Regions from separate parts of the Homo sapiens genome. Here region 1 is linked to region 2. Evidence: fine-mapped expression QTL. A gene starts in region 2. The other region holds a variant in brackets. All regions are shown on one strand. Distances are from middle to middle.

Region 1 (2,921 bases), 21 kb after region 2:
GGTGCAGAGCTGAGTTCAATTCCTGGATATCCTTGTTAACTTTCTGTCTTGTTGATCTGTCTAATGTGGACAGTGGGGTGTTAAAGTCTCCCATTATTATTGTATGGGAGTCTAAGCCTCTTTGTAGGTCTCTAAGGACTTGCTTTATGAATCTGGGTGCTCCTGTACTGGGTGCATATATATTTAGATAGTTAGTTCTTCTTGTTGAATTGATCCCTTTACCATTATGTAATGGCCTTCTTTGTCTCTTTGATCTTTGTTGGTTTAAAGTCTGTTTTATCAGAGACTAGGATTGCAACCCCTGCCTTTTTTTGTTTTCCATTTGCTTGGTAGATTTCCCTCCATCCCTTTATTTTGAGCCTATGTGTCTCTCTGCACATGAAATGGGTCTCCTGAATATAGCACACTGATGGGTCTTGACTCTTTATCCAATTTGCCAGTCTGTGTCTTTTAGTTGGATCATTTAGCCCATTTACATTTAAGGTTAATATTGTTATGTGTGAATTTGATCCTGTCATTATGATGTTAGCTGGTTATTTTGTTTGTTAGTTGATGCAGTTTCTTCCTAGCATCGCTGGTCTTTACAATTTGGCATGTTTTTGCAGTGGCTGGTACCGGTTGTTCCTTTCCATGTTTAGTGCTTCCTTCAGGAGTTCTTGTAGGGCAGGCCTGGTGGTGACAAAATCTCTCAGCATTTGCTTGTCTGTAAAGGATTTTATTTCTCCTTCACTTATGAAGCTAAGTTTGGCTGGATATGAAATTCTGGATTGAAAATTCTTTTCTTTAAGAATGTTGAATATCGGCCCCCACTCTCTTCTGGCTTGTAGAGTTTCTGCCAAGAGATCCGCTGTTAGTCTGATGGGCTTCCCTTTGTGGGTAACCCGACCTTTCTCTCTGGCTGCCCTTAAAAATGTTATTTTCAAAATGTTCAAAAGTTTATTTAATTTTTAGCCTTTCAATTTTGTGAACAAAGAGGCTGTTCTTGAAGTTTAGGCTCTGTGTTGGCTTGATGAAAGGATATCACTATTTAAAAGGGCTGAAAGTTTGCCTGTACATACTGTTGAGATTTTCTGCATGAAACACAAGAATGTAAAATAACTATAGATTAAACTAGATAGAATCTTAAATTTCTTGCATGTAAAAGCATTTAGGAGAGAGGCAGTCTCAGGCTGCCATGGCAAGTCCACAAATTGTCAGGTACTCAAGTTCCTTGCAATCACCACCTGGCCATCTTTAGGGCATGGCCCTCAGGCTTGTGGCTCGAGAGTGGTATGGAAGAAGGGAAGAAAAAAGGGATGCTTTATTTCTCTTGAAGAGACTCCAGGTATTATTTACATCTCACTAGCCAGAACATAGTCTCATGGCTCTGGCACCCATTGTTTCAATGGAGGCTGAAGTATCGTCTTATATCCAGAGGGCAGTGAGCCCAGCTAAAACCAGGGCTCTTTTACTAAGCCAGATTGATATTAGGAAGTGAGTAGCCATTAAAAACTCACAAAACTCTTGATTTTTCTGTTTTGTCCTT[T/C]GATAACCAGTTGGTTGGTGTCTTCTGTTACTGGGCATATAAAAGTTGGGGGAGATAGCAAAACTCAGATCTTTCAGTCTTGCTGTTTAAGGGAAGCATCAGTGGGTTTGGTGAGTGTTGGAACTGAGACTGAGATTTAGTATGTCTTCAGGCTCTCAGCTTCTTCCACGTGTCTGCCACCATGGCCCTTTCCTGCTGCCTCCTTTCTTTTTATTTCATATATTGAATGCCTTTTTTTTATACAAATACTATTCATCTTATTTTTCATTTCTAGACATCTCTATTTTTGCTTCTTTTCCAGATGGACCTAGATGAAGACACTGCTGAAAAATTTTATCAAAAGTTACTGGAACTGGAAAAGCACATTAGGGTCACTATTCAAAAAACAGATAATCAGGCCAGGCTCAGTGGCTCATGCCTATAATTCCAGCACTTTGGGAGGCCAAGGCAGAAGGATCACTTGAGACCAGGAGTTCAAGACCAGCCTGAGAAACATAGTGAGCCCTTGTCTCTACAAAAAGAAATAAAAATAATAGCTGGGTGTGGTGGCATGCGCATGTAGTCCCAGCTACTCAGAAGGATGAGGTGGGAGGATCTCTTGAGGCTGGGAGGCAGAGGTTGCAGTGAGCTGAGATTGTGCCACTGCACTCCAGCCTGGGTGACAGCGAGACCCTGTCTCAAAATATGTATATATTTAATATATATATAAAACCAGAGCTGACAATGACACTCTGGAACATTGCATACCTTCTGTACATTCTGGGGTACATGGATTTCTACTGAGTTGGATAATATGCATTTGTAATAAACTATGAACTATGACTGTCTCTTTTCCTTCCTTTTGGAATGATCTCCAAGACTGTGTATGTGTATGCATATGAGAAAAAGATTGGGCCGGGCACGGTGGCTCAAGCCTGTAATCCCAGCACTTTGGGAGCCTGAGGTGGGCGGATCATGAGGTCAGGAGTTTGAGACCAGCCTGGCCAACATGGCAAAAACCCATCTCTACTAAAAATACAAAACTTAGCCAGGTGTGGTGGCGTGCACCTGTAATCTCAGCTACTTGGGAGGCTGAGACAGGAGAATCACTTGAACTCAGGAAGCAGAGGTTGCAGTGGGCCGAGATCGTGGCACTGCACTGCAGCCTGGGTGACAGAGCAAGACTCCATCTCAAAAATAAAAAATTGATTAAGTAAAAATATTAATTAGTTATTCTCTAGAGTGGTATCACATCAAAATTATTAGAGTTCTTTTCGGAAAGATTTTATGTAAAAATAAAAATTATTTGAGTCACCCAACAGAGTATCTGTTTATATTATTCTGCCAACTGGGGCCTAAGCTGTGCTCCATGGGACAAGAGGTGGACTTGAATAATTGTGACACAGGCACGCACTGC
Region 2 (2,921 bases):
ACAGTTCGCTTAGAAGGCATATAAGCTCTGAAAAACTGTAATTTTGAGTTGGTCTGGTGATAATTTCCAGGCCTTCTCCCTGCAACCGGTTACAGAAATAAAAACTCTCTTCCTCCCCAGCTCATCTGCATCTCGTTATTGGGCCTTGAAAAATAGCAGCCCAACCCTCAGTTTGGTCTGAGAACAGAAGGTTGTAGGGAGAGTAGCCTTTGATCCTTTGCTACTGGGGAGTGGGGAGATGGGGTTTTTCCTTCTGGTTTAGCTTTAGGAAGTTGGTGTTAATTGACCCTAGGCTCTCGGCCCCCAGACCCAGGTGTTTTCCTTTTGATCCAGCTTTGGGAAGCCAGCACCAATTGGTCTCAGATTCCCTACTTCCAGCCCTTGCTGTTTTTCCTTGATTGAGCTTTAGGAAGTCAGCACGAAGTGGCCTTAAGTACCCTGCCTCCAAACCCTATTCTGCCTCATTTTGGCAGAGTACTTTTATATGTCTTGGATCTAATAATAAAATATCGGGGCTTGTGTTTTGTATGCCTTTTGCTTTTCTTTTTCTAGCACTTTATTTTTTTGTATTTTCTAAAAGCACCCATCTGGGATGGCTTGGAGACAAAAACAGGTCCTTTAGCACAGTTTGAGATGCACTGATACAGAAGGTTACAGCACATTCTCAGTACTTCGGAGAATGAAGTTCTGAGATTCTGATTCCACGCCACATTCCAAGTTTTGAATACTGGTAATTTACGTCTGATTCTACATAAAGTTCTTAATAAAATCAGTGCTCATTTTCTCAAATAAGCTTCTTTAGAGGAGGAGGTCTGGGATCAAAAGTTGGGCTGTGAAGTGGCACAATGCCTGGATCTGTACATCCAAAAAGGAGTGGAAAATTAGATGATAATCGCCCAACTTTGGCTCCTAGACCCAAACCTTTTCTCTAAAATGGGCACTGGTGCAAATACCGTGAGGCCTTCCTGCAAAGAAGTGCCAATCTCAGGCGCCAGGGCACAGACCCAGTGCGTGTCACAGATCCTGTCCTGAGTGCTAGGCCGGGTGACGCCCCCACCAGGATTAAAGATCAGGCGCCCGCTGAGCCCTAGGAAGCAGTGACAGACACCTGCGCCTAGGCGGAGCGAGAAGAGCCTGGAATGGCTCCGGGCTTTGCGTCACGCAGCTCCGCCCCTCGGCCTATCTCACCCGACGCCGTCTCCGAGGGCAGGGAACGGTTGGCGGACTGAGATTGGAGGGATCAGCTCAGACTCGATGACGCAACGGGAGGCGGGGCGTGGCCGTACTCTGATTGGTGACGGGTGAGGCGGCCCGAAATCGTAGGACTTCCGAAAGCAGCGGCGGTGTTTGCTTCACTGCTTGGAAGTGTGAGTGCGCGAAGATGCGAAAGGTGGTTTTGATCACCGGGGCTAGCAGGTGAGGCCTCCTTTGGGTTGGCAGAGGCGGCAGCGGATCAGGGGTCCGAGAGAGCAGGGGTCTGCGACCCTCCACGAACGGACCCCGGAAGCGCCCGCCCCTGGCTTTGCCTAGGTTCCCCGGAGTCTGCAGCAGGTGTGGGGCATGTCGGCCTCTTGAGGTGCTCAGTAACTGGTGCTTTGTATTAAACATGACAGTGAAAAGGAAAACTAGAGCATCAGTAAGTGATGAGTGTCGCAGTGATGATCCTGAGGTTATCAAGGCAATGGGGTACTCAGGCGGGCTCCGCCCCTTTTCCATCTTTGCCTACTGTTCGTATTTATCGTCAGTGCCCAATATTTTGCTCCTGACCACGTGATCATGTCTTATACTCCAGGTGTTTTGTCTGTACAAGCCTTTTGCCTACAAATTTGAACACCCATGAACATTAGGACGGTGGAGAGAAAACAATCCCGTTTCATTTAGCTCAGTGCTAGAGAGCTAACATACTCTTCAGAAACCCAGAGAAAATTAATCTTTTCCTATGAAGGCATGGTTGGGGTGCAGAATAACCAGCTCATAATAATTCCAGGGTTGCTCGTTTAGTCTCTCAGCCTCTTCTGTTGCTTGTTTTACCTGTCATTTGCACTTCTGTGAAAAATGTGTGGAGGATGAAGCCAATCAAACCATTTTTCTACTAGTTGCATTTGGCATTTTTAAATGATTAAGACAGAGGACATGTTAAACATTTAAGATTGATCCACTTTCAATTATTTAACCACATGCGTATTAACTAAGCCAGCTTGGTAGGTGTCTGCATTTGGCAACTTTTTAGCATACCCTCTCAAGTGACTTTAACCGTTGATTGGTGCTTCTTATGTGGAAGGTACTGAGTAAGTCAGAATTGATTTTGTCTGTTTCTTTTACATATATTGTGACATGTGCAATTGTATATTAAATGCCTACTGTTCTCATGTGAGGACAAATAAATATTTTTGATGCTTTGTTGTTGGTGCTAATAGATTACTGATGGTTCCAGGCTCTTTTTGGGTTTTAACTATTAACATATTTGCCTGGAATCAGCTTAAGTCTTGAAAGAGAACTTATTACCCAGCTTTTCATTGCTATCAGCCAGGCTGGTCTGACTGCTGTCACCACTCCTATGCGGTTTTACAATGCTGGTTTTGAAGTTCTTTGTTTCCAAGTGGTGTACTCATCTAATATTTAGTGTATTCCTACCTTCTACTTAATCATGTTGAGTTCTTTCTTTTTCTATTATTTAATCATAGTTGTTGAGAGGGATTTGTACATCCTGCCATGTTACTGATGCCTCATCCTGAAAGATTCATCTGTTCCTTTATCAGAGATTTCTGGTGCTCCTTATGGTGTTTACGATACCAGTAGGTGGTAGAGCCCTTGCCCCTGAGGAGCCTAGACAGCAAAGTCAAAATGCACATAGGAAACAGCTAATAAGATGCTCTTTTGAGCCCTTACTGGTGATATATTAAATCATTTTCATGAGTGAC

What was found.
Region 1: its variant is fine-mapped to the expression of HSD17B7 in whole blood (INTERVAL, PIP above 0.99).

The regions. Positions count from the first base shown.
Region 1 is chr1:162,810,472-162,813,392 of GRCh38, forward strand. It overlaps HSD17B7 (hydroxysteroid 17-beta dehydrogenase 7), which reads left to right. Exons shown (of 9, transcript NM_016371.4): 9 at 1,827-2,352. The coding sequence ends at 1,949. Among named protein-coding and RNA genes, the nearest start is that of HSD17B7, 21 kb to the left of the region's middle. The variant T/C (reference allele first, on the strand shown) is at 1,526.
Region 2 is chr1:162,789,420-162,792,340 of GRCh38, forward strand. HSD17B7 (hydroxysteroid 17-beta dehydrogenase 7) reads left to right here and starts at 1,283. Exons shown (of 9, transcript NM_016371.4): 1 at 1,283-1,416. The coding sequence starts at 1,382. RefSeq lists silencers at 1,211-1,270, 2,667-2,867.